2 linked regions of the Homo sapiens genome follow. The gene in region 1 interacts genetically with each later gene. Each region holds a gene or a part of one and is shown in the gene's direction. Other genes may lie near its edges. The genes, in order: EHMT1 and SUV39H1.

Region 1 (3,813 bases):
GTAAAATTTTTTGTTTTTTTTTTTGAGACAGAGTTTCGCTCTTGTTGCCTAGGCTGGAGTGCAGTGGCACGTTCTCGGCTCACTGTAACCCTCTGCCTCCCGGGTTCAAGCAATTCTCCTGCCTCAGCCTCGCAAGTAGCTGGGATTACAGGTGCCCACCACCACGCCCGGCTCATTTTTTGTATTTTTAGTAGAAACGGGGTTTCACCATGTTGGCCAGGCTGGTCTCGAACTCCTGACCTCAGGTGATCTACCTGCCTTTGCCTCCCAAAATGCTGGGATTACAGGCGTGAGCCACCATGCCCGGCCCAAAATTTTAATTTAATCAAATTTGCACGTCCTTTTTTCAAATCTTTCAAAAGCATTATCCTATCCTATGACTATACCCCTGCTTGGAAATGAATATAATTTTTAAAAATACATGAAAGAAAAGTGCCTCCAAGTGTTAATATGTTGAGTGTAGGTTGATATAATTCTGGATGACCTTTTCCCTATTTTTATTCTTTACTGTGATTATGCTACTTTTATAATTATGTTATTTTTACAATGAAACAAACAAAACATGAAACGAAGTGCCTTCCAGAGTTGAGATGGGCGCTAGGTTCCCATCCGGTGACCTGTGGCACCCTTTCCACCTGGCCCTGCTGCGGACGGCCACGCATGCTCCAGAGCCTCTCCCCGGGCACATGGGCTGCAGCTGCTGTGGCCCAGCCCCAGCACTGTGAGCCAGCAGGAAGCCTGCACTGAGCTCTGGCTTGTGTCTGTTCAGGAGGAGAACATTTGCCTGCACTGGGCGGCGTTCTCCGGCTGCGTGGACATAGCCGAGATCCTGCTGGCTGCCAAGTGCGACCTCCACGCCGTGAACATCCACGGAGACTCGCCACTGCACATTGCCGCCCGGGAGAACCGCTACGACTGTGTCGTGTGAGTGCAGTGCTTCCCCCAGCGCGGGCTGGCGCTGACCTGACCTGGGCGCCCAGAGAGACCGCTTGACAGTCTTGTGTTCACACTTGGGGCGTGAGTGGACACAGGCCCTCTGTTCCTTCGTGTGGAAGTCCATCCTTGGTGTTCCACACGCAGAGAAGTGTCTTTCCCAGTCCACGTTTGAGATCAGCTGTGGTTTATTTCTGGGTTAGGGAGGATTGTCATGAAAAAATTCCCAAGTTGGAGTCTCAGACCTGATACTCCTCACATGGCTGAGGGGCAGCATGGGAACAGCCCTGCTCCCAGCAGGGACCTGCCAGCTCAGAGTCCCCGAGAGGCTCAGGGTGCCTTCTGGGAGCAGTGCCACCCACAGCCAGGGCTGGAGTTGCTGGGGGCTGTGGCACTCGCCACTCAGGGCCCTTTTAAAACTTGAGACCTTCAGCTGGGTGGTGGTGGCTCACGCCTGTAATCCCAGCACTTTGGGAGGCTGAGGCAGGCAGATCACCTGAGGTCAGGAGTTTGAGACTAGCCTGGCCAACATGGTGAAACCCCATCTCTACTAAAATACAAAAATTAGCCGGCCATGGTGGCATGTGCCTGTAACCCCAGCTACTCCAGAGGCTGAGGCAGGCGAATCGCTTGAACCCAGGAGGCAAGAGATTGCAGTGAGTGGAGATTGCGACGCTACACTCCAACCTGGGCGACAGAGTGAGATTCTGTCTCAAAAAAAACCCAAAAAACAAAAAAAGCTTGAGACCTTGATCCCATAAAGTCATCCACACTCAGGTTGTTGTTGGTGGCCTGGGATGGAGTGTGTGTTTGGCTGCTGGGGAAGGACAGGGAACTGTGGGTGCTCCAGGCACCAGCCTCCAGTGACTCCCTGGCCCCTACACATGGGGCTGTGCCCTCCCACATGTGGATCTCACGGTGGCTCAGCCAGGTTGGTCATCTGGTTGTGTGAAGCCCAGCTCCACGTACGATGACTGCAGTCTGGATGCAGTGAGCAGGAGTGGAACTGAGGACTGCTCACGCTGTGCGTGGCCCAAGCTTGGCCTCTCTCCCTCCTTGCTTCCCTTCTTATCCTTGAGGGTAAATTTGAATGAAAAATCCAAGAAAAATCAAATGCCGCCCTGGATTTTACACTCTTCCTGCTAAGAAAACAGCCTGCTGACTTTGACAGTGAATGTGGGAGAGGAGGAAGGGAATCATGTTCCTGGGTGAGCTAAAGCCCGTCTTTGCAGAGTCATTGCTGAGCAGACTTGTTCAAGTTATCTCACAGTGAATAGTGTTCCCTTTATTGTTAGTGATGACGGACATTTTATAAATCTCATCTGTATCACATTTTCAAGTCAGCTTTAAATGTTTTGTGGCCTTACATTTTCCCTTTTAGCCTCTTTCTTTCTCGGGATTCAGATGTCACCTTAAAGAACAAGGAAGGAGAGACGCCCCTGCAGTGTGCGAGCCTCAACTCTCAGGTGTGGAGCGCTCTGCAGATGAGCAAGGCTCTGCAGGACTCGGCCCCCGACAGGCCCAGCCCCGTGGAGAGGATAGTGAGCAGGTGAGCCCAGCCCCAGGACGGCTTTGTGGCAAATCAGCGGTCAGCAGGGCTTTGGGAACTTGCGGTGAAAGCTGCTCCTGAAGCCGAAACATCCCCAGGCTGCAGTCCAAATTGTCAGGGCCAGGTGTTTGCCAGCCGCCCCACTGCACGCTGTGCCACCCCCTGGGCAGAGCACGTCAGCCACCAGGTGACACCTGTCCTTTCCATGGCAGGGACATCGCTCGAGGCTACGAGCGCATCCCCATCCCCTGTGTCAACGCCGTGGACAGCGAGCCATGCCCCAGCAACTACAAGTACGTCTCTCAGAACTGCGTGACGTCCCCCATGAACATCGACAGAAATATCACTCATCTGCAGGTGAGTGACGGCAGATGAAGGGCTGACTCAGGCCAGGACATGGGACAGGCAGAAGCTTCTTGAGCCTGGGGTCCTGGGTTCTCACCACTCAGAGCAGGAGGGCTTATGGGGGGCTTCCCAGGAAGACCTCATTCTCTTTGTAGTTGCCTCCCGTGAAAGAGCTGGAAGGCAGATAAAGGTTCTGTCAGGCCCAGCCCTGGGCCCTCTCATTGCTCTTCCAAGGCTTCTTACCGACCCAAAGCAGTGGCAGGCATCTTTGTGCCTTTTTTGTAACCTCACACTCAGGGGCCCCGGTGTGGCTTCGTGCTGGGGGCACAGGCGAGAGGAGCCCTTGCGAGGCCTGCAGGACGACCTGGATCCCTGCACCTCCCAGCCCCCGGAGAGATGGGTCCAGCACATGCCAGCTTTCCCAGCCTCCGAGTGCATGCAGCCTGGTGCCCTCACTGCTTGCGCCTTCTCGAGCACTTTCCTTGTGGCTCTGCTTGTGGGCAGCTCCCTCCTCTTCCCAGGCCGGGCACTGCCCAGGCCCCCCCCCCCCCCCGCCCCCCGCCCCACAAGGTGTGTCAGGCTCTGTGTTCTTGCCTTTCCCATCGAGCATCTGGCCACAAATGCAGCCGCCGCCCAGCCCTTCACCCACCCCACGTCACCCACTGCCGCGTCGCTGCCCTGCCTGCCCCCTGTCCCTCTGTCAGGGTCCTCAGCCAGAGCTCCCTCCCACAGGCACTCGACATGTTTCTGCCTGCACAGCCTTCTCCCTAAGAGGCCACACACTCACGTGGTGCCTTTGAGAAGCACTTACCAGAATCAGGGTTAACAGAACTGGAAGACGTAGTTGTGACTGGGAGGGGAAATGGAAGGCCTGTGCCTGCACGTCTGACCCCCCGGCGCCTCTCTTCTCAGTACTGCGTGTGCATCGACGACTGCTCCTCCAGCAACTGCATGTGCGGCCAGCTCAGCATGCGCTGCTGGTACGA
Region 2 (3,096 bases), on another chromosome or scaffold:
ACCCCTCCCAAAGGCACACCAGTCACTCAGAGAACCAAGGAAAATTCTTTAGCGGGAGCTTTAAGATGCTCTTCCTGACTCCCAGTCCCCCATTCGGACTACTAGACCCCTGCCTACCCCTCGAGTCCCCTCATTCCCAGCCCCTGAACCCTAACCCTGAGGCATTCATACCAACTTCTCCCAAGATTCCTGGAGAGTTAAGAAACTCCTGACTCCAGTCTTGACTGAGTTTCCCTCATCCCCCAGCCCCTCCCCACTCCTAGCTCCCTTTGGCCTTCTTCATCCCAAGCCTCTGGACACCCTTGTGGCCTCCAGCCAGTCCCCTCCTTGATAAGCTAGCCACCTCTGAGACCCTCAAGGGCAGGTCTTTGGCAGGAGAGTTCAGATGTACCTCTGGATGCCCAGGTGGCCCTCTATTCCTGCCCCTGCCCCCCCCCACACACCTAAAACGACCCTCCTGGTTCCTTGACGGCTCCCTGCCTCCCCCAGCATTCTTCAACCCCTGGCCTGAACAACCTCCAGTGCTGAGCCCTGGCCCTAGCCCCAAACCACCAACCCTAAGATCTCCCAACTCAAATCCCAGAGTTGCTCCCAGCCCCAAAGATCCTTGGTCTCATGGTATAAAGGGTAGTGGGACCCTTCATCCAGGCCTTCTAACAAGTCCCCTGCCTCCTTCCCTACCTTCCTCCCTCCCTCCTTCTCCCCCTCCCTCCCTGCCTCCTTCCCTCCTCTCCTCCCTGGCTGTGACTCCACAGTGGACCCCGTGGACATGGAGAGCACCCGCATGGACTCCAACTTTGGCCTGGCTGGGCTCCCTGGCTCCCCTAAGAAGCGGGTCCGTATTGAATGCAAGTGTGGGACTGAGTCCTGCCGCAAATACCTCTTCTAGCCCTTAGAAGTCTGAGGCCAGACTGACTGAGGGGGCCTGAAGCTACATGCACCTCCCCCACTGCTGCCCTCCTGTCGAGAATGACTGCCAGGGCCTCGCCTGCCTCCACCTGCCCCCACCTGCTCCTACCTGCTCTACGTTCAGGGCTGTGGCCGTGGTGAGGACCGACTCCAGGAGTCCCCTTTCCCTGTCCCAGCCCCATCTGTGGGTTGCACTTACAAACCCCCACCCACCTTCAGAAATAGTTTTTCAACATCAAGACTCTCTGTCGTTGGGATTCATGGCCTATTAAGGAGGTCCAAGGGGTGAGTCCCAACCCAGCCCCAGAATATATTTGTTTTTGCACCTGCTTCTGCCTGGAGATTGAGGGGTCTGCTGCAGGCCTCCTCCCTGCTGCCCCAAAGGTATGGGGAAGCAACCCCAGAGCAGGCAGACATCAGAGGCCAGAGTGCCTAGCCCGACATGAAGCTGGTTCCCCAACCACAGAAACTTTGTACTAGTGAAAGAAAGGGGGTCCCTGGGCTACGGGCTGAGGCTGGTTTCTGCTCGTGCTTACAGTGCTGGGTAGTGTTGGCCCTAAGAGCTGTAGGGTCTCTTCTTCAGGGCTGCATATCTGAGAAGTGGATGCCCACATGCCACTGGAAGGGAAGTGGGTGTCCATGGGCCACTGAGCAGTGAGAGGAAGGCAGTGCAGAGCTGGCCAGCCCTGGAGGTAGGCTGGGACCAAGCTCTGCCTTCACAGTGCAGTGAAGGTACCTAGGGCTCTTGGGAGCTCTGCGGTTGCTAGGGGCCCTGACCTGGGGTGTCATGACCGCTGACACCACTCAGAGCTGGAACCAAGATCTAGATAGTCCGTAGATAGCACTTAGGACAAGAATGTGCATTGATGGGGTGGTGATGAGGTGCCAGGCACTGGGTAGAGCACCTGGTCCACGTGGATTGTCTCAGGGAAGCCTTGAAAACCACGGAGGTGGATGCCAGGAAAGGGCCCATGTGGCAGAAGGCAAAGTACAGGCCAAGAATTGGGGGTGGGGGAGATGGCTTCCCCACTATGGGATGACGAGGCGAGAGGGAAGCCCTTGCTGCCTGCCATTCCCAGACCCCAGCCCTTTGTGCTCACCCTGGTTCCACTGGTCTCAAAAGTCACCTGCCTACAAATGTACAAAAGGCGAAGGTTCTGATGGCTGCCTTGCTCCTTGCTCCCCCACCCCCTGTGAGGACTTCTCTAGGAAGTCCTTCCTGACTACCTGTGCCCAGAGTGCCCCTACATGAGACTGTATGCCCTGCTATCAGATGCCAGATCTATGTGTCTGTCTGTGTGTCCATCCCGCCGGCCCCCCAGACTAACCTCCAGGCATGGACTGAATCTGGTTCTCCTCTTGTACACCCCTCAACCCTATGCAGCCTGGAGTGGGCATCAATAAAATGAACTGTCGACTGAACAAACCAAGATGTGAGGTGCTTGTGTGGGTGGGGGTTGAGGGGATAGAGGCTGGGAGCTGGGTTTGCCCAGGAACATGTTCCTCAAACCTCAGCCATTTGACTCTAATCCTCACAATTTCAGCCCCCACAGCATATCACTTACACCATCATCTATATAACATCTTGACCTAAAATAAGTTTGTTTTATACTTAAACTTTAAAATGCACTTAAGGCTGGGTGTGGTGGCTCACATCTTTAATCCCAGCACTTTGGGAGGCCGAGGCAGGCAGATCGCTTGAGCTCAGGAATTCGAGACCAGCATGGGCAACATGGTGAAACCACGTCTCTGCTAAAAATACAAAAATTGGCCAGGTGTGGGGGCATGTGCCTGTACCTGTAGTCCCAGCTACTCAGGAGCCTGAGGTGGGAAGATTGCTTGAGCCTGGGAGGTGGAGGTTGCAGTGAGCTGAGATCTCACCACTGCACTCCAGCCTGTCTGTCTCCAGAAAAGAGCCAAACCCTGTCTCAAAACAATGCAATTAAATTGACTGGTTTAGACTGGCCGTAACTGGTTTTGACTGGACTTGACCGATCTTGACCTGTGTTGGCCGACTTTGACTTGTCATGACTGGCTGTGACTGGTGGTAGCTAGCCGTGACTGGCCTCGACTCGTTTTGACCAATCAGGACTGGCTTGGACTGGGATTGACCAGTTTTGACTGCTTAAACTGGCTGTGATCAGCCTGGACTGGCTTGGATTGGCCTGGACTAGCAGGGACTGAAAT

The links.
Region 2: changes in EHMT1 (region 1) and SUV39H1 together harm fitness more than expected from each alone (negative genetic interaction), as found in Homo sapiens cells (one large-scale study listed by BioGRID).

Annotation. Positions count from the first base shown.
Region 1 is NC_000009.12:137,810,692-137,814,504, forward strand, and holds part of EHMT1 (histone-lysine N-methyltransferase EHMT1), read left to right. Parts: intron 1-769; coding exon 770-924; intron 925-2,314; coding exon 2,315-2,482; intron 2,483-2,694; coding exon 2,695-2,839; intron 2,840-3,739; coding exon 3,740-3,813. UniProt on the Homo sapiens protein: Histone methyltransferase that specifically mono- and dimethylates 'Lys-9' of histone H3 (H3K9me1 and H3K9me2, respectively) in euchromatin.
Region 2 is NC_000023.11:48,706,682-48,709,777, forward strand, and holds the end of SUV39H1 (histone-lysine N-methyltransferase SUV39H1), read left to right. Parts: intron 1-755; coding exon 756-889; 3' UTR 890-2,335; downstream 2,336-3,096. UniProt on the Homo sapiens protein: Histone methyltransferase that specifically trimethylates 'Lys-9' of histone H3 using monomethylated H3 'Lys-9' as substrate. Also weakly methylates histone H1 (in vitro).